4 linked regions of the Homo sapiens genome follow. The protein of the gene in region 1 interacts with the protein of each later gene in a biochemical or structural test. Each region holds a gene or a part of one and is shown in the gene's direction. Other genes may lie near its edges.

The links.
Region 2: the proteins of HERC1 (region 1) and BAK1 interact in a test that uses a peptide from one of them, tested with the Homo sapiens proteins (one study listed by BioGRID).
Region 3: the proteins of HERC1 (region 1) and PKM form a complex in vitro, tested with the Homo sapiens proteins (one study listed by BioGRID).
Region 4: of the proteins of HERC1 (region 1) and SOX9, one has a biochemical effect on the other in vitro, tested with the Homo sapiens proteins (one study listed by BioGRID).

What each region holds. Positions count from the first base shown.
Region 1 is NC_000015.10:63,634,920-63,641,957, reverse strand, and holds part of HERC1 (probable E3 ubiquitin-protein ligase HERC1), read left to right. Parts: intron 1-314; coding exon 315-488; intron 489-1,512; coding exon 1,513-1,806; intron 1,807-3,181; coding exon 3,182-3,247; intron 3,248-3,421; coding exon 3,422-3,547; intron 3,548-4,314; coding exon 4,315-4,453; intron 4,454-5,815; coding exon 5,816-5,997; intron 5,998-7,038. UniProt on the Homo sapiens protein: Involved in membrane trafficking via some guanine nucleotide exchange factor (GEF) activity and its ability to bind clathrin. Acts as a GEF for Arf and Rab, by exchanging bound GDP for free GTP.
Region 2 is NC_000006.12:33,572,052-33,577,276, reverse strand, and holds the end of BAK1 (bcl-2 homologous antagonist/killer), read left to right. Parts: intron 1-1,348; coding exon 1,349-1,484; intron 1,485-1,835; coding exon 1,836-1,979; intron 1,980-2,751; coding exon of another isoform or gene 2,752-2,962; exon of another isoform or gene 2,963-3,056; intron 3,057-3,062; coding exon 3,063-3,243; intron 3,244-3,369; coding exon 3,370-3,474; 3' UTR 3,475-4,725; downstream 4,726-5,225. UniProt on the Homo sapiens protein: Plays a role in the mitochondrial apoptotic process. Upon arrival of cell death signals, promotes mitochondrial outer membrane (MOM) permeabilization by oligomerizing to form pores within the MOM.
Region 3 is NC_000015.10:72,214,158-72,221,195, reverse strand, and holds part of PKM (pyruvate kinase PKM), read left to right. Parts: coding exon of another isoform or gene 1-28; intron 29-2,085; coding exon of another isoform or gene 2,086-2,098; coding exon 2,099-2,252; intron 2,253-3,695; coding exon 3,696-3,787; intron 3,788-7,038. UniProt on the Homo sapiens protein: Catalyzes the final rate-limiting step of glycolysis by mediating the transfer of a phosphoryl group from phosphoenolpyruvate (PEP) to ADP, generating ATP.
Region 4 is NC_000017.11:72,116,297-72,124,054, forward strand, and holds the start of SOX9 (transcription factor SOX-9), read left to right. Parts: upstream 1-4,723; 5' UTR 4,724-5,095; coding exon 5,096-5,526; intron 5,527-6,422; coding exon 6,423-6,676; intron 6,677-7,246; coding exon 7,247-7,758. UniProt on the Homo sapiens protein: Transcription factor that plays a key role in chondrocytes differentiation and skeletal development.

The sequences.
Region 1 (7,038 bases):
ACTTTTGAAATATAGTAGATGCCTTATTCTGCAGGTTCTGAAGAAATAGTTAATTATTGACATTTTTTCCTTAAAAAGTACCAGCTAATCAGAGGTAGTTCACAAATTTTATTATTTCTCATTATTTTTTACTTAGACAAAATTTAGGATATTTTGAAGTTCCATAGGCATTAAAAGCATAGCCTTTTTGGATATAAAATATCCAAAAAGCAAAGATGTCCCAGTTACTAGAAGGAATTTCGCAGATTAAATGGTGATAGCATTATTTTTTATTTAAACAAATTTATTATGTGGCATGATTTATTTTCAACCAGGATGTTTTGGTCGTGAATTGTACAGCAGAATGGGCAGCTGCCAATCATGTTTTGGCAACCTGTAGGACAGCATTGAAACAGCAGGGTGTTCTGGGATTGAACATGGCTCCCTGCATGAGAGCATTTTTGGAGCGGCTCCCCATGATGCTTCAGGAGCAGTATGCCTATGAAAAGGTAACTCATTACACTCACTCCTAGAGATACACAGATACCTGGTGCTTTGGAATGTGATTATAGCCTTGAACTTATCCCTTAAAAGCATGAGGTCTGAGGATAATAAGTGGGGCTATTTGGGCAGAATCAAATGAAGGTAAGTCATGCCTAAAAGAGTTGTTCAGCAACCCTAAGCCTATTCTTGCTTTATTTTCACCAGAGTAAAATAAAGAAACAAACACCAAGTTTGTATTACTGCTTTTCAGATTATTTATTCACTCCAAAGCTTCTTAAAATACCTATGCAGCAGAATATCTTCCCTTTTCTGACCCACACATATATCTATTTTTATATGGCTTGGCCATTCCAAAGTTGAGGGATAGGGATGGATGCGGGTATCAGACTGAATATCGTCTCCACTTATTAGATAAATCTTTGTGGAAAATTTAGTGGAAGAGCTATGTTGAATTGAGTAGGGTCATTAAATACTGGAATGAGGAATTGCAGCGTTTGAACTTGTCCAGACAGTGATCCTAAAGTAGCCTGTCTTCCAGCTTTTTGCTTTTCCTTTGATGGCTACCAGGATTCTCTTATAAAGGAGGAAAGTGAGAAGAGCAGATCTCTGTGGTTAAATAGTTACCTGCTTTTTTTTCCAATCAAGAAAAACCATGATGAAAATGTACTATATGCAGTGTGATAGCTTAGATTGGATCCTGGAGCAGAAAAGGAGTATTAATGGGAAAACTGAGGAAAACCAAATAAAGTTCTGTGGTTTAGTTAGTATTGTACCAATGTTAGTTTGTTAGTTTTGATAAATGTGCCAGGGTTGTATAAGATGTTAACATTGGATAAAGTTGGGCGAAGGGTATACAGAAATCCTCGGTACTATCTGTACAACTCACTCTAAATCTAAAATTATTTCCTAGCAAAAAGCTTAAACAGTAAACTTGAAAAATATGATTCCAGACTTTCAGACTACGGTAGGTTAATTTAGAATATTTGGCACAAACTCTTTGACATATTATATCCTTGTATTTTGTTTTAGCCTCATGTGGTTTGTGGTGACCAACTTGTTCATAGCCCCTATATGCAATGCTTGGCTTCCCTTGCTGTGGGACTTCATCTGGATCAGCTGTTGTGTAACCCTCCAGTGCCACCACACCACCAGAACTGTCTCCCTGACCCTGCATCCTGGAATCCAAATGAATGGGCCTGGTTAGAATGTTTCTCAACCACTATAAAAGCTGCCGAAGCCCTGACCAATGGAGCCCAGTTTCCAGAATCTTTTACCGTTCCAGATCTAGAACCTGTTCCAGAGGATGAACTTGTATTTCTAATGGTAAATGTACTGTGAGCTGCTATTATTTGCAGCTGAGATTTTATCATGGGTATTGGGCATGTAGCAGACCCCTAATAAGTCTTTGCTGGTATGCATGGCTAGAAGGATACCCTTAAGAGAAATGGAAAATATTTTTCTTTCAGATAGTCACTTTCAATCTGATGGCAGGCCTCCATAGTGACAGGAATTGATAATGTAAGCACTGTTGAACTCTTGTAAACCTGCCACCTCTCAATGACATAGTCCCATATTTTCTCATTTTCTTTTGTCCATAGGTACTTTGTTAGTGCTTTAGTTGTATATATCTTAGCATCTTTTCCTGGTCATCTTGTGGGTTATATGCCACATATAGATTCTAATTTATTTGGCATTTCAATCATGTCTTTAATTAGCATCAAATAAAATATAGAAGAGCATTCTAATTGTCATTTCATTCTGTTTGTATTTGAGAGTGTCTACTCTAGAAACTGTGACATAGATAAAATACCTGTTTAGACTACAGGACAGCACATGATCTAACAACCTCTTTGTATACTTAAGATTTATGTATACAAACATTTGGATAAACATTGATACAATATGAAACAGACAAATATAAATTAAGTAAAATTATGTAACTGTAGCTATGCATCACTTAATGATGGGGATATGTTCTGAGAAATGCATTGTTAGGCAATCTTGACGCTGGGAATATCATAGAGTGTATAGTACTTACACAAACCTAGATGATACAGCCTACTTGCAACAAGACTATACGGTATAGTCTGATTACTCCTAGGCTACAAACCTGTACAGAATATGACTGTATTCAATGCTCTAGGCATTTGTAACAGTGATAAGTATTTGTGTATGTAAACATAGAAGATATAATAAAAATAAGGTTTTATAATCTTAAGAGACCATCTTCACACATGCAGTTTGTTGTTGACTGAAATGTCACGTGGCACAAAAGTATACAATATTTTAATCAGAAAATGTCCTTCTAAGCCCATTTGGCCCAACTCTGTAATTTTGTAGATGAGGAAGCTGAAGCCCAGAAAGATGAAGTAATTTGCCCACAGCTACACAAAGAGTTTACAGGGGTGTGGGGTCCTCCACATGACCTTGTACCTGTGGGTGTTCAGAAAACACATGGCTAGCTTTGAATCACCAATGCCATAGTGATAGTGATAGTGAAAGTGTTTATAATAAAGGGAAATACTGACAGTGCATAAAATCAAGTTTGACATAATTATAAAACTGCTCTTAATTTATCATAATATTACCATATTCTTTTTTGGAAATAAGACTTAATGATTAGAAGAGGACTTTGTGGTTAAGAGCAGGTGCATCTTGCCTAAGCAGAATTGATCATTATGTACCCCCTGTTTTTCAGGATAACAGTAAATGGATTAACGGCATGGATGAACAAATTATGTCTTGGGCAACTTCCAGACCTGAGGTCAGTAAAGATGAAGATAACTGTATGATGGTTCTCAGTCAATGTTTTGATTCTAAATGCTTGTGTGTTTGTGCCCTGGTGTCTCCCATACAGGCTGGCACACACTTGGTACGTAGTACATGGCTGTTTGAGTGAATGGATGACTCTAATTTTGAGATGATTGTGGTTTTCTAGGACTGGCACCTGGGAGGTAAATGTGATGTCTACTTATGGGGTGCTGGTAGGCATGGACAGCTGGCAGAAGCTGGAAGAAATGTAATGGTACCTGCAGCAGCTCCCTCATTCTCACAGGCCCAACAGGTAACTAACAGGATAAAAAATAGAAAAGAAACATGGGAACTGAAAATTCTAATTCTTTTGCTTGTCTTATTGTGGGATAAAGCTTGTCCATTTCATAATCTATTATGAGGAATCATTAAAGAAAGTCATGATATATAGCTTTCAAATAAAAACTTGGTGTGGTTTTTATCAGACTTAAGAAGTTAACAAATTTCTAAATTTTTCTTTCAAGTTTAATGAACTAACATCATGATGTGTTAGGCCTGCCCAGTATGTATTTCTAGCAGTTTAGATACTCCTAATTAGTGATTTTCTCTTTGGGGCTAAAAACTTCCTAGGATCTTTAGCCAGATTTTATCGACCACTCCCCTTTTCTAATAATCCTGGTACGATATAGCGCCAAACCCTTCTCGAGGCCTCTGCTTTCTCTTTTGCTCTTCTTTACCTCAGCTAGTCCAGATTGCATGACTCATTCTTATGTACGAGTTTCTGCTTCTTTCTAGCCCAGTCTTTAATGTTTCCCCATCACCCCTTCCTTTTTCTTTCATCCATTTTGTTGTTCTAAACTATTTTAAATGGATGAATCTCATACATCTCTTGGTTAAATAAGCAGTTTTATAGTCATCAAGGAGTTACGGGACTGCATAGTTATATCAACTCTTCCCTTTCAGTAAAAGGATAAAACAATTATAAAAGCATTCTATGTATACGTGGAATCATTTCAAGTGCTTGCATGTTAAAGCAATATAATAAAGAATAAAATATTTAATTCTGTGTTTTTATACTAGGTCATTTGTGGTCAGAATTGTACCTTTGTCATCCAGGCCAATGGCACAGTGTTGGCTTGTGGGGAAGGAAGTTATGGCAGATTAGGACAAGGAAATTCAGATGACCTTCATGTGCTGACAGTTATTTCAGCCTTACAAGGTAAAATTGTCCTTAATAAAAAGATGGTTAGAACCTAAGGCCTAATGTAGGTTTGGTCGTACAAACCTTTGCCCTTCTCAAACCTTTGCTAGATAAAATCATATCAGGTTTTCACTTACATTTAAATCCTTATTTAGGCATGTGTGCAGCCTTAATTTCCATATTTTAAGCTATATTGCAGGTTACTTATAGCAATGCTAGAATTCAGTGAAATATAAATAACACTTTTTGAGACCCACTGAAGATTGTAAACAAATGCTTAAAAATTGCAAAAGTGTAAGTAGGCAGATGTTAATAGCAGTAGCAATCATGCATGTATTTCATTAAAATTAAAAATCAGTTTATATGGAAATCTGCAAATGTGCTAAAGACTTTAAAGGACATCTTCATCAGAGTTCTTTGTGACTTGGAGAGAGAACACCTTTGGAGAAACCACTGTACAAGCCCCCGGCTTGCTCATTAACTGAACTCATAATGACTCTGAAGCCTACAAAGAGAGCACCGACGGTTTTTTTAGGTAAAAGCATACAAGTAACTATGAGTTCAAAACAAGTTCCTAGAAGCTCAGGTTCTTTTCATTGTGATCTGAGTGTGAAGAGCACAGCAGTAAAGATGAGAATGTGTGCTGGGTTCCTATGGGTTCTACTGGTCCTTGGCTCTGGGACATTGCACAAGCTTCGAGACCTCTTTGTGACTCAGTTTTCCCACTTGTAAAAATGGGATGTTAGTATCTGTTTCATAGGTGCTATGTGAAAGTAGAAAATGAGATAATCCATGTAAAGCATTTATAGGAGTGGCTAGAGCATAGCCAGTCATTAATGACTGTAACTATTGCTGTCATCCTCGTTTTCCTTGTCATCACCATTATTTTAGGTGACTATTCGCAGTTTTGCTAGGTTATGGCTACAAATTCAATTTAAAACTAAAGAAATTAGGCCGGTTACTGTGGCTCATGCCTGTAAACCCAGCGCTTTGGGAGGCCGAGGTGGGCGGATCACTTGAGGTCAGGAGTTCATGACCAGCCTGGCCAGCATGGTAAAACCCTGTCTCTGTTAAAAATACAAAAATTAGCCAGATATGGTGGCACATGCCTGTAATCCCAGCTACTCAGGAGGCTGAGGCAAGAGAATCACTTGAACCGGGGAGGTGGAGGTTGCAGTGAGCCGAGATCACACCACTGCACTCCAGCCTGGATGACAGAGTGAGACTCCATCTAAAAAAAAAAAAAAAACTAATGAAATTATTCTTATTTTCATAGTACCAATTCGGTGGTTTTTGATTGAGGGTATTCAGTAGCAGCTGCAAGTAAAGAGGAGAGTTTTAACATCCAGTGACTCCTGTTGGGTTTCTGTTCTGTTCCAGGCTTTGTGGTGACCCAGCTGGTGACTTCCTGTGGTTCTGATGGGCACTCTATGGCCCTAACTGAAAGTGGTGAGGTCTTTAGCTGGGGAGATGGTGACTATGGTAAACTTGGCCATGGGAACAGCGACAGGCAGCGGCGGCCCAGGCAGATCGAGGCCTTACAAGGAGAAGAAGTGGTGCAGGTCAGGCAGGAAATGGATAAGTTTGCCTTTCATTGTAAATATACTAGTTGTTGAATAGGTTTCTTAAAATTAGGTAACAGAAAATATAGTAAAAATATATTACACAGTAATTATAAGAGATCCATTGGTTTTGGATGTTCAGATTCATTCTTGAGCTTGTCAGAAGTTTGAATAGGCTTTGGTGTTAGTATTGGTCTTGTTAGTATTGGTTAGAATGGTCTTTTTCGTGAGCCAGCTGGTTGGCCCAGACTAGGGTGCTGCACGCCCTTGGAAGGAATATTGTGTGGTTTAACTTCTGCCACACAGTTCTTAATACACAGATAAAAGGAAAACTTTGCTTTTAACCTATCATTTATGTTACAAAAGCTAAGTTAACATGCATTTTCTGGAAAATAGTGTTCTAAAATCATATTGTAAGATTGTATAGCACCTTATAGTTTACAAACAATTTCCCCATTTATTATCTCATTTAGTCTAGGTCATGTGTACACAGCTGAAGAGTAGCAGTAGTTACTCCAGGGTATGCTGTTCAGCTTGGGCTTCCTGAGGCTGTTGAGACAGATCAGACTTGGGAGAGCAGGAGAGCAACTTGGGCAGATAAATGTACCAGTTGGCCAGATGCAGTGGCTTATGCCTGTAATCCTAACACTTTGGGAGGCCAAGGCAAGAGGATTGCTTGAGGCCAGGAGTTTGAGACCAGCCTAGACAACATAGCAAGACCCTGTCTCTACAAAAAATAGAAATAAATAGCCAGGTGTGGTAGCACATGCCTGTAGTCCCAGCTACTTGGGAGGCTGAGGTGGGAGGATTGCTTGAGCCCAGGAGTTTGGGGCTGCAGTGAGCTGTGATCACACCACTGCACTCCAGCCTAGGTGACAGAGCAAGACACTGTCTCTTTAAAATTTAAAAAAAAATTAAAAAAAAAAATTTTTAAAAGCATTGGTCTTTGAAGATCCAGTTTTCAGTGAAGTTTATGTAAAGTTTATTGCTATATTAATACCAAAAATGGCAGATTTACTTTTTTCTTAGTTTCCCTTCTTA
Region 2 (5,225 bases), on another chromosome or scaffold:
AGAGGGCTGGGTCACGGGCGAGGGAGGCAGGAATTAGAGTGGGGCCTGGCTGCTGTATCCCTCCAGCGGGAGAAATAAGGAAGTAAGCTGGCCAATCACCCAGTCAGGTCTGCTCAACAGGGAACGCAATTATTGTGACTTGGGGAGGAAGTAAGATGGCTGCCCTCCTTCCCTCTTCCCAGGGGATAGCCAGGGAAGCCCCAGCTCACACCTCACGGCGGGCTGTTCCCTGGACTTGGGAATCAGGTCCCAGGTCTGTCACTATCTCCCTGTGTGACTTTTCTGGGCCGCAGCTACAAATTCAGATTTTGTTTCCCACATTTCCCTGCACGCAAAGGGCTGCGGAGCTGAGATGTACTAATGTAGACTCAGGACCCCAAATGCCCGGGACTGTCCCGGTTCCCCGGCTTGTTCTGGCTGTATGACCTTGCACACGTTACTCAGACACCCTGTGCCATTTTCCCCCTGCCAGCTGGGGATTGCCTGCTCCCAGGGCTACTGTGAGGACTCAATGCAAGTGCCGGAACAACTCTCCACACAGCATAAGCTCTAGGGGCGGCTAAGGTGCTGAAGTAGGGATATTTCTTTTCTTTTTTTTTTTTTTGTTTTTTTTGTTGTTGTTGTTTTGTTTTGTTTTGTTTTTTGAGATGGAGTCTCGCTCTATTGCCCAGGCTGGAGTGCAGTGGCGTGATCTAGGCTCACTGCAAGCTCCAACTCCCGGGTTCACGCCATTCTCCTGCCTCAGCCTCCCGAGTAGCTGGGACTACAGGCGCCTCCCACCACGCCTGGCTAATTTTTTGTATTTTGTTTAGTAGAGACGGGGTTTCACCATGTTAGCCAGGATGGTCTCAATCTCCTGACCTCGTGATCCGCCCGCCTTGGCCTCCCAAAGTGCTGGGATTACAGGCATGAGCCACCACACCCGGCCATTTTTTTTTTTTTTTTGAGACAGAGTTTCGCTCTTGTTGCCTAGGCTGGAGTGCAGTGGCACGATCTCCGCTCACCGCAACCTCCGCCTCCCGGGGTCAAGTAATTCTCCTGCCTCAGCCTCTTCTTGAGTAGGTGGGATTACAGGCATGTGCCACCACACCCGGCTAATTTTGTATTTTTAGTAGAGACAGAGTTTCTCCATGTTGGTCAGGCTGGTCTTGAACTCCCGACCTCAGGTGATCTGCCCACCTCGGCCTCCCAAAGTGCTGGGATTATAGGCGTGAGCCACCGCACCTGGTTGGGATATTTCTTTCCATGGGTGAGGACAGCTATGGCCTTAGGAAGAGTGAATCCCCTATAAGGCATGGGGCTGCCAGGGTTCGGCCCTCTCTCCCTGACTCCCAGCTTTGATCCTCAGAGGAGCAGGTAGCCCAGGACACAGAGGAGGTTTTCCGCAGCTACGTTTTTTACCGCCATCAGCAGGAACAGGAGGCTGAAGGGGTGGCTGCCCCTGCCGACCCAGAGATGGTCACCTTACCTCTGCAACCTAGCAGGTGAGCTACAACCGCTGGGCCCACAAGGACATCTTCAGGGAGGCAGTAGCTCGCATGGGTCTCTGTGCAGGTCCTGGGAGCTGGGGAGGCCTCGGGGGTCTTGCCCTTCTCTCATGGTTGCTCCTCTTTTATGTTGGGCTCCCACCCCCATCCAGGACCTTGTATCCTTTTTAGCCCATGCCTGCCCCTTCTCCTGGAGCCCAGCACTCATGTCTTAGAACACTGTCAGGGACCTCCAAGAAGGGATGCACAGGGCCATGGACAGCTCAGGCAGAACCCCTCTGCCATGAGCCAGGGCCTGGTCCCGACTGCCTGGTTACTGGCTCACCTGCATGCCTCCTGCTCCTACAGCACCATGGGGCAGGTGGGACGGCAGCTCGCCATCATCGGGGACGACATCAACCGACGCTATGACTCAGAGTTCCAGACCATGTTGCAGCACCTGCAGCCCACGGCAGAGAATGCCTATGAGTACTTCACCAAGATTGCCACCAGGTACCCCAGCCACCTCCCTGCCAGCTCCAGTCACTCCTCTGTCATGTCACAACCATACCATACCCTGCCTGCATGATGCTCTCCTGGCATGGGGAGAAGCCTTCTGTCAGTGTCCAATGTCTGCTGTGAACTCACATGTGGTCTCGGCCCCCTATTTTTCTCTTTCGGGGTCCCAGACTTGTATTTTGGGCATTAGCTCACAGCTCTTTTGAGCTCTGACTCCAAGGTCTTGACTGGTTAGATCAGGACTCTAGAGGGGGCCTGAGGTGGGGACGTCCCCCACAGCTCCCCAGCCCAGCTGGGACATAGCTGTCCTTCATAGTTCCAATTTGAAACCACATATCACACTGAAGATGGTGAGGGTGCTAACCTCTGCCAGGTCCTAGAAATGGCTCCTACTTGCTATAATCTGGCATCCAAGTGGTTAAAGACACCGAATATTTGGGTGCAAATCCAAGCTTTGCCACTTACTGCCTTCGTGAAGCTTCCTAGCCCTTAGTCTCCTGGTTTGTAAAATAGGGAAAATATGCTTAGATTAGTGTCCACCTTACAAAGTGTTAGCCATTGCTACCACCAGAGTTAGGGAAGTCAGTGTCGGAGTAGATTTGAAACTGGAGGTGAAGGTAGGAGTAAGTGATAGATTTTAGAATTAGTGCTCAGAGCTGAAATATCCAGTCCGTGAACTTAGAGGCCAGCCTTCATACCACTGTGATGACAGGAACTACCCTAATCTTTTCTGTCCTTTTCTCTCTGCTGTCCCTCGGGCTGCCAGGCCAGCAGCAACACCCACAGGTAATCTCCCCGCTGACTCCATCCACTTGCTCTGCCCTCTGCCCTCTCTGTGCCCCGTTGCACCTGAGCGTACACCCCAGCAGTGGCATCCAGCTCATCTGCCCCTGAGCTTTCTCCTTTCGCAGAGACCCAGGTTGTTCCCAAATACAGGCCAGGTTGGGGCAGCCTCTGCGGCCTTAATTCACAGCTAAGCTATTTAGCTTCCAGCTGGGAGAGGGGTGGGAGAGGCCAGGCAGGCTGAAGGGCTTCCTGGGGGCTCTCCACCAATGCTATGGGATGCTCTGCCCACAGCCTGTTTGAGAGTGGCATCAATTGGGGCCGTGTGGTGGCTCTTCTGGGCTTCGGCTACCGTCTGGCCCTACACGTCTACCAGCATGGCCTGACTGGCTTCCTAGGCCAGGTGACCCGCTTCGTGGTCGACTTCATGCTGCATCACTGCATTGCCCGGTGGATTGCACAGAGGGGTGGCTGGGTGAGTATCCAAGGACTGCAATGTCCTCCCTGCTGTTGGGGCTGCCCCTCTCCCAGGCCCCACCCCTTCCTCGGGTTCCTATATCTTCTGCTAGCCTCTCTGTGACCACCTTGTTTCTCCCGGCAGGTGGCAGCCCTGAACTTGGGCAATGGTCCCATCCTGAACGTGCTGGTGGTTCTGGGTGTGGTTCTGTTGGGCCAGTTTGTGGTACGAAGATTCTTCAAATCATGACTCCCAAGGGTGCCCTTTGGGGTCCCGGTTCAGACCCCTGCCTGGACTTAAGCGAAGTCTTTGCCTTCTCTGTTCCCTTGCAGGGGTCCCCCCTCAAGAGTACAGAAGCTTTAGCAAGTGTGCACTCCAGCTTCGGAGGGCCCCTGCGTGGGGGCCAGTCAGGCTGCAGAGGCACCTCAACATTGCATGGTGCTAGTGGGCCCTCTCTCTGGGCCCAGGGGCTGTGGCCGTCTCCTCCCTCAGCTCTCTGGGACCTCCTTAGCCCTGTCTGCTAGGCGCTGGGGAGACTGATAACTTGGGGAGGCAAGAGACTGGGAGCCACTTCTCCCCAGAAAGTGTTTAACGGTTTTAGCTTTTTATAATACCCTTGTGAGAGCCCATTCCCACCATTCTACCTGAGGCCAGGACGTCTGGGGTGTGGGGATTGGTGGGTCTATGTTCCCCAGGATTCAGCTATTCTGGAAGATCAGCACCCTAAGAGATGGGACTAGGACCTGAGCCTGGTCCTGGCCGTCCCTAAGCATGTGTCCCAGGAGCAGGACCTACTAGGAGAGGGGGGCCAAGGTCCTGCTCAACTCTACCCCTGCTCCCATTCCTCCCTCCGGCCATACTGCCTTTGCAGTTGGACTCTCAGGGATTCTGGGCTTGGGGTGTGGGGTGGGGTGGAGTCGCAGACCAGAGCTGTCTGAACTCACGTGTCAGAAGCCTCCAAGCCTGCCTCCCAAGGTCCTCTCAGTTCTCTCCCTTCCTCTCTCCTTATAGACACTTGCTCCCAACCCATTCACTACAGGTGAAGGCTCTCACCCCCATCCCTGGGGGCCTTGGGTGAGTGGCCTGCTAAGGCTCCTCCTTGCCCAGACTACAGGGCTTAGGACTTGGTTTGTTATATCAGGGAAAAGGAGTAGGGAGTTCATCTGGAGGGTTCTAAGTGGGAGAAGGACTATCAACACCACTAGGAATCCCAGAGGTGGGATCCTCCCTCATGGCTCTGGCACAGTGTAATCCAGGGGTGTAGATGGGGGAACTGTGAATACTTGAACTCTGTTCCCCCACCCTCCATGCTCCTCACCTGTCTAGGTCTCCTCAGGGTGGGGGGTGACAGTGCCTTCTCTATTGGGCACAGCCTAGGGTCTTGGGGGTCAGGGGGGAGAAGTTCTTGATTCAGCCAAATGCAGGGAGGGGAGGCAGATGGAGCCCATAGGCCACCCCCTATCCTCTGAGTGTTTGGAAATAAACTGTGCAATCCCCTCACCCTGACTTAGTTTTTGTATTCTCTGCTACCCCTCTTTCCATCAGGCCAGACTGTGGGAACCTGGGCACGCCTGGCATACATCTGGCTTATTACTGAATAAAACCTCACACTAGGCCTCTAGAATCCCATAGAGGCCTGAGTATGGTTCTGCAGCCCCCACTCCGATGGAAGGCGTTCGCCCCTCCCCATGAACTTCTCTCATCTCGTTGGGTTTCATGCAGTTTCCACCCTTTAGGAAGTCTGGGAGGTCCTTTAGCTACAGAGCTGGTGGAGCAGCTGCACATATCTGAGGACCCCCACAGGCTACCTCTGACCTGGGCTGAATTCTTCTCCCACCCTGGGGCTACCACCCACGCTGGTCCAAAAGGCCCTTCTCCCCCACATTTAGCTCTGCCTGGGACACAATGTCCCAGCTCCCCCTTCCTGATGTCTCCACAGTCAGCACACACGCAGGGCTTTCATTCTAGTTTTATGCTGCTTGGGAGTCCCTATGGGTACC
Region 3 (7,038 bases), 8.6 Mb from region 1:
CCGGAAGCCCAACCCCAGAGAACCAAAGGTATGACCTGATATTCAGTGGCCCCAGCCAGGTCTTTACAGGAAGACCCTCATATCTCAGGTCTAAGAAGAGCCAGCTGATGGTTTTTAAAAAGAGTGGAATTAGTTACTCCAACCCACTTATTCAGATCTTATTTTGTTCACAATACAGTCCCTAGATTGTAGGCCCATTGGAGGCCACAGCAAAGCCTTTGTGTTCCAGTTGGCCTGATGTGCCATCTCTCAGTAATGTTCCCTTAACAGCCAGACTTCCCTAAGCCCAGCTGGGAGCTCTGAAGGTATGCGAGCCCTCCCTCAACCATGAGTGTAGGGAAAGGGACCAGGGGCCCCAGGCTTTCCTGTCAGTAATGCAGAAGTTCCTCAGATTTAGGGAAGGGGGAGCAGAGGCATAACTTTGATTCTGACAAAGAGGCATTCAGAGAGACTGAAAGGTCATTTAACAAACACTGGAATGCTTCCACATACTAGGTGCTAGGAGATACAAAACCATATAGGTCCTGGAAGGGAGGATTGATTTTTTCATTTTGGTACGTAGTAGATATTAGGGGCTTAGGAAATACACATCGAAATGAAGAGTGCATTTGCCATGTTGAACCGTTAGCCGGTATCTTATTTCCCCATTTTAAAAGTTTTAGAATCTGTGGTTGAGGACTTGTGGCCATCAGTTTTCCATAGCCAACAGACTGTTCACTACTGCCTTCAGAGCTCCTTGGACCTCAGCGGGCCTTCTTTGGAGATGGCAGAGATGGATTTAGATGTATACTCTACTCGAGCCACCCAGAGAGCCCACAAAGTCAGAGATGGAACAGGGTAAAGGAGTAAGGGTCATATGTGTGAGATGCCTTGATTTGGAACTTTGAGATTTAGGATGAGGTGGGGAAGGGCTAAAGAGGAGCTTGTTCCTGAGCCTTGCTTGGCCGAAGCATTTAGGCTCAAGCGTTTTAGAAAGAGTAGCCCTTGGTCTGAGAACTCAAGGAAACAGCTTTCTGATGAGACGTGTAGCAAGCTTCTGGTTCACATCCTTACCTGATAGTTCTTCAAACACTGCCTGGTCTGGTTCACATCCTTACCTGATAGTTATTCAAACACTGCCTGGAAGCTTCTCCTGAGTTTTTGTCTCTAATCAGCTAACTAACAGGCTGAGTGAGTTTAGTTGTAAGTCATTAATGAAGAAAGCAAAGGTTGGGGCCATTGTCAGGGTTGTGACCTGGGCTAGTTAATTACCTGGAACTGATGGTCTGTGTTACAGAGTGGTGGTATACTTGTCAGGCTTAGAAAAGAAATCAGGATGTGTATCAAAAATCATTTGGGGAAAAGATTTGACCAGCAACTTTAATTTCTCTATGTTTGCAACTATCCTGTTAATGTAGTTGTGATAATTTCAGAATTATACCAGTGCCCTTATGTTATCCTTGCTTTGCAAATTGCAAATTGCTTTGCGTGTCCTGACATCCTTCTGGCCAACAGTAGATGTGGTTTTAGGTTTAGACTCCTGGGATGGAAGCTTTTGCATTCAGGGGAATGACTTTGGGTTTGGGTGAGGATTGTAAAGAGGCAATATGGGTGCCCCACGACAAAGCAGCTATTTGTAGCTTTGTGACAGCTTGACATGCAGAGATCTAGGCTTATCAAGGCACTAAGCTAGGAGTCAGTTGTTTGTATCACTGGAAGATTGGTTACAACTTCCTTCATTGGAAGCTCCTTCAGTGCATGTTAAATGATGTTATTTATAGATAGGGTGGTGAGAAAGCTGTCTAGGTAGATGTCAGTCAGCCCAGTGTAAGAGAGACCTGCTTACTGTGGGTGCTTGGGACTATGTGGAGTGGGTGGGAGGTTTTAACTTGTTCAGTAAGGTCCTTTCCATTGTTCACAATCTGGTGAACCCTTTTTCTAACATGAGGAGCACCCACATAACCAGATCATGTCTGGCTTCCCTGTGGCTTGTGTACAAAGCGTGCTTATTGAGTTAATGTGTAAGCAGGAGACAGCCTTCTGTGCTAAATGGTATATTAACCACTTCTCAGTCTTACCACTCTCTTTCAATTTGTCTCGACCCAGGACCTCAGCAGCCATGTCGAAGCCCCATAGTGAAGCCGGGACTGCCTTCATTCAGACCCAGCAGCTGCACGCAGCCATGGCTGACACATTCCTGGAGCACATGTGCCGCCTGGACATTGATTCACCACCCATCACAGCCCGGAACACTGGCATCATCTGTACCATTGGTGAGTGGGTGTGCCCCTTCCCCCAAAAAAGGGCTTCATGGGCAGTGACCTTTCTCTCCTGAAAAGAGTAACTAAATGTCCTAACAAACCTAGGTGCTACATGGGATACTACACAGATTCTTATGAAAGGACTCAGGTCATAGGAAGTTGCAGTAAAGAATTAGTATGTGCATAGGATGGCAAATACAGTTAATAAGAGAGTATTAGACATTTCAAAATTGCTAAGATGGCGAGGTATGGTGGCTCCCAGCACTTTGGGAGGCCAACGTGGGAGGATTGCCTGAGCCTCGAAATTTGAGACCAGCCTGAGCAACTTAGACCCTGTCTCTCCAAAAAGTGAAAAAAAAAAAAAAAAAATTAGCTGGGCATGGTGGCATGCACCTGTAGTTCTGGCTACATGGGAGGCTGAGACAAAGATCACTTGAGTCCAGGAGATTGAAGTTGCAGTGAGCCATGATCACACCACTGCACTCCAGTCTAGGCAACAGAGCGAGATCCTGTCTTAAGAAAAAAAAATTGTCCGGGCGCAGTGGCACATGCCTGTAATCCAGCACTTCGGGAGGCTGAGGCAGGTGGATCACCTGAGGTCAGGAGTTCGAGACCAGCCTGGCCAACATGGTGAAATCCCATCTCTACTAAAAATACAAAAAAATTAGCCGGGGGTGGTGGCGGGTACCTATAATCCCAGCTACTTGGGAGGCTGAGGCAGGAGAATTGCTTGAACCTGGGAGGCGGAGGTTGCAGTGAGCTGAGATCTGACCATTGCACTCCAGCCTTGGCAACAAGAACGAAACTCTGCCTCAAAAAAAAAAGGAAGAAAAAAGAAAAAAACATCGCTAAGAGTAAATTTCAAATGTTCTCACCACAAAAATGTTAAGTATTTGAAGTCATGGATATGTTAACTAACCTGATTTAATTATTCCACATTGTATCCAAACTGTATGTATTGGATTACATAACTTTGTAACCCAAATTATAAATTACCAGTTTATAATAAAAAATAATTTGTTGCAAAAAGAATCCATATGGTTTAGGTTTTATGCTATAGGCAAAATTTAGAAGATGTTTTCCTTAGCAGGTCTTTGTAGGAGCAACTTAAAGACCTAGGAAAGATCTTTCTAACATGTTCTGTGCTACCAAGATTCTGTGGTTGGACATCTGGCTGGGTTTCAGTGAGGGTGGAGAAGGCTGGCCAAGTCTTAACCTAGGCTTTTCTGATACAGTGGGAGCCTGCAGAACTTGAAGGAAATGGTCGAAGTGTCCCAGTAGATCAAGAAAGTAAGCTGGCACGGTAGTAGCCTTCCATGCACTTTTTAAAGACTTTTGAGCTATTTGGGAGAGGAAAAGTTTTCAGGGAAAAAAATTCTTTAAACTTAAGCAAACTTAAATGTTTTTCCTTCTTTGAATAATTAATACTTGTGGCTTTAAAACTTTTCCTAATAGGCCCAGCTTCCCGATCAGTGGAGACGTTGAAGGAGATGATTAAGTCTGGAATGAATGTGGCTCGTCTGAACTTCTCTCATGGAACTCATGAGGTGAGCTGTGGCTGGACCCTATGGCCATTGTGATGGCCTGTAGGAAACAGGGAGGGGGTGCAGTGTTCGTTTAGCCACAGTGGACTAGACAAGGATGAGTCTGAGTTTCACAGTCAGTGTGAAGTTTGTCTTTACTAGCCCATCCCTACTCTCCTTCCCTCTTGTCCTGACAAAGCAACTGGCTGAGTCTCTTTTAGCAAAAAGGACCCCCTTTGTTGCTGGCTGTGGTTCTCCCACACACCTCTCCTACCCTTAGCTTTTACAAAGGAAGATATGGAAAGGTTCTACTGGAAAACCCTCTAAGCCTTAGGTGTCCTGGCCACAGCGCTTGACTCTCCTGTCCCAGGGTTTCTGCTTCACCTTGTGTTGCCATGGTAAACCATCTAGCAGATTGATTCTAGCTTAGAACCAAAATAACTGGGCAGGTCCATGAGAACGGTTTCCACTATTCTAAGTTTTGAGGGACTGAGCCTAATGCATAAGCACTATCTGGGGTGTAATACCCCACTTCCTCAGCACTGTATTCTCAGCCTGTGCCTTCCCAGGGGTTCTGGTACATTAAAATAACACCAGTTAGCACTCTTCCCCAGGAGCCTAGTAGGACTGTATTTGTGCTGGGCTCTTTATTAGCTGGCTTTACCTATGGACAGAGGCCTTGCCCAGGAGCCAGGTAGCAGCTGTTGGGATGGCTCCATTCCTGCCTCCATTGCCAGATTTAGAATTAACCCATTCTGAGGAGCTTGGGGTTCCCTGAGGTACCATGACTTATTTATTTTTTTATTTTATAAAACAAAATTTTGCTCTGTCATCCAGGCTGGACTGCAGTGGTATGATTATGGCTAACTGGATCCTTGACCTCCCAGGTTCAAGTGATCCTCTTGCCTCAGCCTCCCGAGTAGCTGGGAATACAGGCATGCACCACCACACCTGGCTAATTTAAAAATTTTTTTGGGGGAAATGAGGTCTCACTATATTGCCTTGGCTGGTCTCAAACTCCTGGGCTCAAGTGATTCTCTCAAATGTTGGGATTACAGGAATGAGCTACCATGCTCAGCCTGGGATTGTGCCTTTTTAAAACCTTCAGACTTAACCATAGGTTTCCCATAGATCATGGGATTTCGTAATGGCATTGATAAGAGGAATTACAGAAGAGGCAAACTTTGCACCTGTCTTGGCTTCTGTATTTCCTGTTGAGAGTAAAGAAAATGCTATCCTGTAAGGCCAATTGCCTTACAGAGGTTGCCCTCTGGCATTTGGAAGTTGGTATTAAGTTTGGACTAAAAATAAAGCCTCAGGAAATGCAATCCAAGAGTGAATTCCTCCTTTTGGGAAACACAAGACTCTTCATCATAGATTCCCTAACCTGTGTTCATAAACAGCCTATGGCCTGGCTAGTGGCTGGCCCTTAAATGTCATGGGGACCTGACCAAGTCCAGCAGACATACCATGTAGGTTAAGACATGTCCCTGTACCTTTTGGAAAATTCTGTAGTTTTCCAAAAGCAAGGGGTCCTTAGCAGGAGTCACCGAGAATTACTTGTTAGAGAATTAAGTGTTAGCTTAGCTTAGAGAGAGCTGAAGACAATGCTGGAGGTCTGTTCGCTGTTGATCCCTGCTGCTGTAGTCTGCCATGGGCTCCTGCATTCAGGGGAAGGAGCAGAAATAGATTTTTAAGAAGTTGACCTTTAAGTAGGCTTTATGGTTCCTTCATCCAGTAAAATAACACCACATAGCTCTAACATGGCAAGGGCGAGTGATACCTGCCACACCTGCTGGATGAGAGCTGGCTCCGATTTTGGTATTTTAAACTTTAAGAGGCTTTTGGAGATTATCTCTACTTTCACTCCTATTCCCAGATTATAATTAAGATTTATTTTTTATTTTTTATCTATTTATTTTTTAAAGATGTCCCTCTTGTGTGTTCATTTTGAAGTTTTAGACCAAGATGAGGTTGTGTGTGGGCTCAGCTTGGAAACTGATCTGAAATTATTCTAATTTATATAATGTAATGTAAACAGTTTCAGCCTTACCATACGTCAGGGCTATCGTTTCATGTGCACCTTTGACTAGGGGCTGGGGCGTACTTTTCCAGTTTCTGACTATTTTAAATGCTCTTCTGAGCAGAACGTTGAGATTACTGTCTTCCCTCTCACTCTGACAGAGGGACATCAAATGTCTGCATCTGATCTTTTAACAGCTTTTTTTTTTTGAGACAGAATCTTGCTCTGTTGCCCAGGCTGGAGTGCACTGGCACAATCTCTGCTCACCACAACCTCTGCCTCCCAGGTTCAAGCAATTCTCATACCTCAGCCTCCTGAGTAGCTGGGATTACAGACCTGTGCCACCACGCCCAGCTAATTTTTTTATATTTTTAGTAGAGACGGGGTTTCGCCATGTTGGCCAGGCTGGTCTTGAACTTGTGACCTCAGGTGATCCGACTGCCTCGGCCTCCTAAAGGCGTGAGCCACCACGCCCAGCCCTCTTTTAACAGCTTTGGCAACTAGTCTTCAGCCCTCACTTTTGGCAGTTCACATGGGCAAGATGCATTCTTGCTGAACATGTGGTTCCATATGCCATGTTTTCCAGATTTATTTATTTATTTATTTATTTATTTAGAGAGGGAGTCTCGCTCTGTCATCCAGGCTGGAGTGCAGTGGCACGATCTTGGCTCACTGCAACCTCTGCCTCCTGGGTTCAAGAGATTCTTCTGCCTCAGCCTCCTAAGTATCTGAGATTACAGGCACCTGCCACCACACCCGACTAATTTTTGTATTTTAGTAGAGACTTGGTTTCACCTTGTTGGCCAGGCTGATCTCGAATTCCTGACCTCAAGTGATCCATCCGCCTTGGCCTCCCAAATTGCTGGGATTACAGGCGTGAGCCACCACACCTGGCCTAGAAATAATGACTTTTAAACAACCTAAATGTAGAGCCTTCCACAGGACAGCATTGATGGATGCTTTACCACATAACATCCCAATAAAGCCACAGCTGAAGTGGAAGACTCAGTACACCTCCCAGAGATGCTCTAAGAGATTATGATATATGACATAGATTTGAATAATATACCTAATAATTGGTATGTTTATAATATATGGTTTTACATCCCCAAGACCAAAAATGCATGTTTGCATGAAACACTCATGGTTACAAAAATATATTAGGCCACCAAAAAAACCCCCACGTTTCATAAAGTAGAAATTATACAGACACATTCTCTGATAAAATTTTTTAGTGGAAATTAAGAACAAA
Region 4 (7,758 bases), on another chromosome or scaffold:
CCCAATGGGATCTCTTAGAGGGAAGCGCTGGTTAGAATCCCTCCAGGCTGAGATGCAATCATCGCCATTGAGCCTGCCCTCCCCTAGGGAAACCCCACAAAACCATCCTGAGAATCTCAGCCCTCTTTGGTCGGTACCTGAGACTGCATAGACCTAAACTGAAAGGTGATCGAAGGGGAGGAGCAGTTGCTCGTGCGGAGGAAGCTCTTGGGGCCGAAGTGGCCCCGGCCGAGTATGTCGCAAAGGAGGCACCACTGCGTTGAGCGCTTACTGTATCTTTACTTTTAAATCACCAAGGCAAAATCACCTTCAGCTAAAAATGCCTGAAAGACTTTTTAAAATAGTGGGAGTGGGCGTTAGGGGGAAGAGATGGCCTAGGAAATTTTCCGCAGGGCGTTCTAGGGATGAGTTGAGGGAAGCCGCATGACGCGCGGCTCCCCGGTGCCACAGCTAAGGACAGATATTTTCGCAAAACCCAGAATGAAAAAAGAGCACGCTCCCTTTGGGAGCGCTGTCCCTTTGGGACTGGGGCCTTCCACTCCCACCCCTCCTTTTTCCCTGATCGGCTCCGCAGCTCCACGACAAGCCAGCTGGTCTGGTCTCTGACTTGGGCTCCGGTCCGTACCCCCGGGGCGCCCTGCTGTGTTACAGCCGCCCGACGCCCCCAGACCCGGCCAGGTCACCAGGGCAGATTGGAGGTTCGCGCCCCCTCACCCGACACCTCCCGTCCACCTCATCTTTCTTTTTTTCGAAAACAGGAAAGGGAAGAAAACTGAAACGGGCCTCTTGGTCTGCAGTTTTAGCGGAGTCGGGATTCCACAGCCCTGAGTGGCACATGCCGGTCAACTTCCCAAAGTCGGGCTCCCGTGTGGGGAGAAATACACACGCAGGAATGCACAAGCATCGCGTGTTCGCAACTGTCGCTGGGAGGTCTGGCGGCTGTGATGGGACATGCACTCACTCGGGCAACACGTCCACAGGTGACATCTATTCGATCAGTCAACAGATATTTATTGCGCACCTACGACGCTATCTGGTACTTTCCTTTTCCCCTTAGCTGTTGCTGTCCAGCCCAGCGCCAGTCCAGAGACGGGCTTACCGGCCGCTCCCTTCCACAAGAAACTCGTGTCCGGCGTGAAGAGCGGACGATAAACACTCTCCAAGCCCAGCGAAATGTACTAATTACAGGAGCGGCTGGGAGCCCGCGACACGGGGACCTGTCCCTCCAGGGATAGGAGTCTTCTACCTGCAAGGGACCCGGCCTGGGGAACTGGAATAGACAAGGGGTAACCCCTTCTCCCATCACCTCTAATGAGAACATTGTCCGGGGCTGAGATATTTGGGGGACGCCGCTGCTCACCCCACCAAACTTTCCCTAGGGACAGAAAAGCGTCCCTACCGAAAACGGATTTAAACACCGTCCCCACTTTTGCTAAGGAAGTTTGGATAGGGAGGTTGTGGTCCTTAATTCGCCAGGTAAAAGGAACCCCATCAGCTCGCATCCCTCACCCCCATCCTGAGCACTGAGTGTTTGCGAGAAACTCGCCCTGCGCCAGCAACTCTGGGCTCCGGTCTCAGCTCCCGCGTAGACGCGGAGGAGAGATTGGCGGCCCCCGCTGGGGAAATTGAGCCCGGCGCCGGTCCGGGACGTGCAAGAGGGGGAAAGGGGGAGATCCCAGACCTCGGTTTCCCGAGGGCTTCCCTGGGGAGCCACTCGCACCTCTGTGTCTCCGCTCCCGGCGGCAGACCTCGCGGCGCTTGCTCAAGAGCGGGTATCCGAAAGCACGTCCCGAACACGGAGAAGCGCCCTCCGTCTCCTGCCTCGTGACCTGCGCCCTTTCCCTCCCTCACCGCATCAGATGGAGGACCCTGGCTCCTTTCGCCCCTGGCAAAATGCTCTAGCCAACACTGGGTCAACAGCCTTAGTTTCCAGATCTGTAACCTGAACATCAGGAGCGGGTTCCTTTCCTTCTACCTGTGTCTGAGGTCCTCTGGTCGGGGACTGCGCGCGTCTTCCCAGGTCAGGGAGGAGGGGTCGGGGCGACCTGAGAAAGACACAACGAAGCGAATGGAGCCCCTGAATGGGGAAAGGGGAGTGGACACCAGGAGGCCCCTGCAGAAATGCAGGACCGATCCACTCGCGAGCTGACAATGCCACGCGCTAGACTTGGCCTGACGGTGGCAACGCTTGGCACCTGGGGGATAGGGGCCTTCTCCTGGCCTCAGTCCCCAAATTCTGCGCAGAATAGAACGGCTGGCATCTCAAGTGCTCTTTTTTCACCCGGATCTCTACAGACACAAGTTCCCTCACTGAGCTGCGCAGAGGTGGATCCGCACAGGAGGGAATATCGCGTAGGAATTCCTGCAAATATAAATCTCAGCAGCAAAGCAGTCCAGATTGACTGGAACACACCACCCCCAGCCACCACCATCCAAGTTTTCCCTGGTTCTCGGAGTTGGAAACAGTTTCTGGGCTTTTGGCGCCCCCTCTGGATACAGATGAAAACTGCAGTCCATTTTTAAGTCGCCTGTTCATAAGTTTTCAGGAAGATGTAAAATTCAAAAATGCTTGCATCAAATCAACGGGAAATGTATAAATCCCCGTCGTTTATGATGTAAAACTCTACATATTAGTATCTTATTGCATAATTGCATTAAAAGTATATTTATACATATACGTATATATCTTGACATATATTTAGTGAAATATTCCAAAATATCTTAAAGTCATAGCCCTCTTCACTGACTTTATTCCAGCAAACATGGTAATTACAATATCATACAACTAAGTACAGACGACCTGGCTAAAATGTCTGCCCGATGGTCTCCGAGTCTCCTGAATCAGGTGTCTGAGAATTACACAGTTATACTGTACACACAATGCCCTTCTACCCGGGACACAGAAATAGGTCCACACTACGCGGACTTTTTTCTCCTAGGAAAGGACGATGCTGTTCTTACACTTTCTGAAAGTAATCACAGAGCCCTGGATACGAAGCTATTGTATGCAAATCTCTTAAATTTGTAAACGAGCTATAGGGCACCAGAAACATCCCATTTGAAGAAGTTACATTCGTTAAAAAAAAAATGCTGTTGAACAAGGCTGTAACTTACTACCTTATGAAGAGTTCCATTTCCTATAAGAAATGTCGGGCTTCTTCCGAAGACAACGAGAGAAAACAAGATTTTAAGAAATTCTCCCGGAAGGACATTGATTTGGATCTTGTGATAGTGTCCTCACTTCGCAAATTAGAAAGGGAAAAAAAAACTAGTTTTTATTATGATGTGGGCCGATTCACCACAACAATAATTTAATTGAGGCGAATTTTTGCAAGAGCCCAAAAGGGTGGGGGGGGGGGGGGAGTTTAAAATTAAGAGTTTCCCAATGCTGTGCGTTTATTTGGGATTCTGAAAGCACAGAACCCGCAAGCGACCAAGACTTTTCTTCTATCCCAGAGCAGATAGCTCCGCACTTACCCAACCTGGCTCTAAGCATTTCGTGTAAACACAAAGGTTGTGCTCAAATCACACTTGAAATACATGAGAGACACCACCAATGCCTCCCCCAGAACTCCCAACTACATGCAGGTCTGAACCGACCGGACTAGAGTCAGAAGCACCGGCGCTTCACCCCTTCAGGTGTTTCGTAAATGCCAGCAAAAGCAGGCAAGCAGCATGACTCCGCCAGAGTGGAGCGTTTTGTCTGCGGTGGTGCCCATTTGTTTGGTCTTTTACAAACCAAGTGACCGGCCTGGGCCTCGCGGCCCGGGACAGCCGCATTGGCAAACTTCTATCTCTCAAAGCCAGAGCAGTTAGCAAACTCTCCCCCAGACAGGGCGACTCGGCTGACGTTTTTGACCCGGCCAGGAGGCAAAGACCAAAACGTCAGAGCAGTAGCCCTGTTACTGAGGAGCGTCGGCAGGGTCGCGGGTAGAGGGGGCTGGAGAATGACTTGTCAGAGCTCAAGGTCGATGTGGCGCGGGGCGGCCTCGAGAGCGCCGGGCTCCTGCGTGGCCACGGCCGCCGCTGCCAACCTTCGCGGGGACTTAGCTTTGCTTTCCATTGACTCCCTTTGCAAAAGCGCAGCAGAATCCTGACCAGCCGCACCAGCCCCGGCGAACCCGAGCATGTTAATCTATTTATATGGATTATTACGGAGGAACAGCGGGCGTTGAGTCACCAAAACATTTGCTTCAAAAGACTATTTCTAAGCACTTTTGCAGGCAGGCAGGCTCGCTCCAGGCGCGTAAACTCGGCTACGCATTAAGAAGCGGCTGCTTTTCGAATACTGCAAACTCCAGCTAAGTCCCCGGTGCCGCGGAGAGAGCAGTGAAAAGAAATGTCGGAGGTGGGGGTAGATCCTAGTCTAGACACACACACTTGCGCGCACACACACACACACACACACAAGATTCGCGCGGAGAAGGCACTAAAATTCTGGCATTCCGAGAGTACGACAAACTTACACACTTGGAAGTCCCGGGTCCCCCGCCTTCCCCGCAGCACCCCCCGCCCCCCCACCCTACCGTCCGCCCTTTGGCTGCGATCCCCTCCCCTCTCCTCCCCTCCCGCCTCGTCACCCAGCCCAGTGCCACAATCCTCCTCCCTCCCCAAAATCGGGTCCAATCAGCTGCCTGCCAACCCTGGGACTGCTGTGCTGTGATTGGCGGGTGGCTCTAAGGTGAGGCGGAGTATTTATTAAAGAGACCCTGGGCTGGGAGTTGGAGAGCCGAAAGCGGAGCTCGAAACTGACTGGAAACTTCAGTGGCGCGGAGACTCGCCAGTTTCAACCCCGGAAACTTTTCTTTGCAGGAGGAGAAGAGAAGGGGTGCAAGCGCCCCCACTTTTGCTCTTTTTCCTCCCCTCCTCCTCCTCTCCAATTCGCCTCCCCCCACTTGGAGCGGGCAGCTGTGAACTGGCCACCCCGCGCCTTCCTAAGTGCTCGCCGCGGTAGCCGGCCGACGCGCCAGCTTCCCCGGGAGCCGCTTGCTCCGCATCCGGGCAGCCGAGGGGAGAGGAGCCCGCGCCTCGAGTCCCCGAGCCGCCGCGGCTTCTCGCCTTTCCCGGCCACCAGCCCCCTGCCCCGGGCCCGCGTATGAATCTCCTGGACCCCTTCATGAAGATGACCGACGAGCAGGAGAAGGGCCTGTCCGGCGCCCCCAGCCCCACCATGTCCGAGGACTCCGCGGGCTCGCCCTGCCCGTCGGGCTCCGGCTCGGACACCGAGAACACGCGGCCCCAGGAGAACACGTTCCCCAAGGGCGAGCCCGATCTGAAGAAGGAGAGCGAGGAGGACAAGTTCCCCGTGTGCATCCGCGAGGCGGTCAGCCAGGTGCTCAAAGGCTACGACTGGACGCTGGTGCCCATGCCGGTGCGCGTCAACGGCTCCAGCAAGAACAAGCCGCACGTCAAGCGGCCCATGAACGCCTTCATGGTGTGGGCGCAGGCGGCGCGCAGGAAGCTCGCGGACCAGTACCCGCACTTGCACAACGCCGAGCTCAGCAAGACGCTGGGCAAGCTCTGGAGGTAGGACCCGGCGGGGGCGGCGCGGCAGGGTGGGCATCGCGGCGGCTGGGGGCGCTGGTCAGGGCTGATTTGCCCCGCCCCGCCTCCCATCGCCCGGGAGTTGCCGTTCCGGGAGCCGGCGGGATGGGGTTGGGAGTGGGAATGGGGTGTAACTGTGGCTCAGAGTTTGACAAAGTTCTTGGGCTGCTCGCGGGGACGCGGAGGAGGGGGGTGGTAAGTGGAAGAGGTGAGGGAGGTAGCTGGAGGATGGACGAAGACTGGTGGGAGACGGAAGGAGGGGGCTGCCAGCCTGCTCTCCAGTCGCCTGGAAGCTCAATCGGGGCGGGGAAGTGAAACTTGCCTCCCTCCTACCCGGCCTCTTAAAACTGCACTCTCTCGTGCAGCCCCACTGTCCACGGAGATGGGGCAAGGGAGAAACCGAGGTTGGAGGAGACCCTTGGCAGGAACTGGGAGGCGGGAGGAGGGAGGCTACTGGAAATAGGTGGGAGTGTATGGTGGGGGGTGAGAATTGGGGACCTTCTTGCAGCTTAAGTAATTTGGGGGAAAGTTTTCAAAGGGGGTTGGGGTTGGGGGCGGTAAGTCGAGCAGCAAAGGCGTTTAGGGGGCAGCACCGGGAGTCGTTTTCATCTCCAGCGTTTCCAAAATAGAAATAGAAGGGGAGGGGAGGGAGGGGGCGGGGAGTGACCGCTCAGGTCAGACTGCAATAACTTATTTATTTATTTATTTTTAAGAAAAGTTATGAGCTGTGGTTGCAGGCAGGAGGGAAGATGGAGTTGTGTGCAGAGGAAGCCGAGTGGTCTGGGTCGCCGCCTCCTCCCCGCCGACCTGACAGTTTGGCGGATTTCACTGACCCCTCTCCCTCTTTTTCTCTGTGCCCCCCGCCCCGCCCCGAGCAGACTTCTGAACGAGAGCGAGAAGCGGCCCTTCGTGGAGGAGGCGGAGCGGCTGCGCGTGCAGCACAAGAAGGACCACCCGGATTACAAGTACCAGCCGCGGCGGAGGAAGTCGGTGAAGAACGGGCAGGCGGAGGCAGAGGAGGCCACGGAGCAGACGCACATCTCCCCCAACGCCATCTTCAAGGCGCTGCAGGCCGACTCGCCACACTCCTCCTCCGGCATGAGCGAGGTGCACTCCCCCGGCGAGCACTCGGGTGAGTCGCCCCTCGACCCCACCGGACAAGCTATCTCCGTCCCGCCTGGCACACCCCCTGCCCTCCGCCTGGGAGATTCTTCGTGGGGACTTTATGCTTCCCGGGAGGGACACACTGCCCTTTGCGCCCGTCCCGCTCCCCTCTCTACCCAGAGCCTAAGAGGCATCCAAACAACACACACACAAACACACACACCCCAACTCAATCCCAGCATCCGAAGAGATTAACTTTTTTATTGGGAGGTAAAATGCCCTTAACAGCCTTACAAGACCTCTCCCTTCTTCTCTGCTCCCCCACCCCAAAAGCACACACAGGGCTCTTACACAAGTAGCAATTAGGTCTTCCGGACCCTCCGGGCCCCAGACCCTCCCCTGATAAAAGGGGGCTGTCCAGTGTGTACCGGCGGGTTAATCATTGGGCGACTTATCTCCGGTGCAGCGCGCCTCTTGCGCGGGTGCGGGCCCTTATTACACTTTAGCAGCGAGGGAGGGTCCCCGGAGGGTGCCTAAGACTAGGGCGTCTGCACAGCCCTTGTTGATTTTCTCGTGCTTGTTCTTTTATTGTCCACAGGGCAATCCCAGGGCCCACCGACCCCACCCACCACCCCCAAAACCGACGTGCAGCCGGGCAAGGCTGACCTGAAGCGAGAGGGGCGCCCCTTGCCAGAGGGGGGCAGACAGCCCCCTATCGACTTCCGCGACGTGGACATCGGCGAGCTGAGCAGCGACGTCATCTCCAACATCGAGACCTTCGATGTCAACGAGTTTGACCAGTACCTGCCGCCCAACGGCCACCCGGGGGTGCCGGCCACGCACGGCCAGGTCACCTACACGGGCAGCTACGGCATCAGCAGCACCGCGGCCACCCCGGCGAGCGCGGGCCACGTGTGGATGTCCAAGCAGCAGGCGCCGCCGCCACCCCCGCAGCAGCCCCCACAGGCCCCGCCGGCCCCGCAGGCGCCCCCGCAGCCGCAGGCGGCGCCCCCACAGCAGCCGGCGGCACCCCCGCAGCAGCCACAGGCGCACACGCTGACCACGCTGAGCAGCGAGCCGGGCCAGTCCCAGCGAACGCACATCAAGACG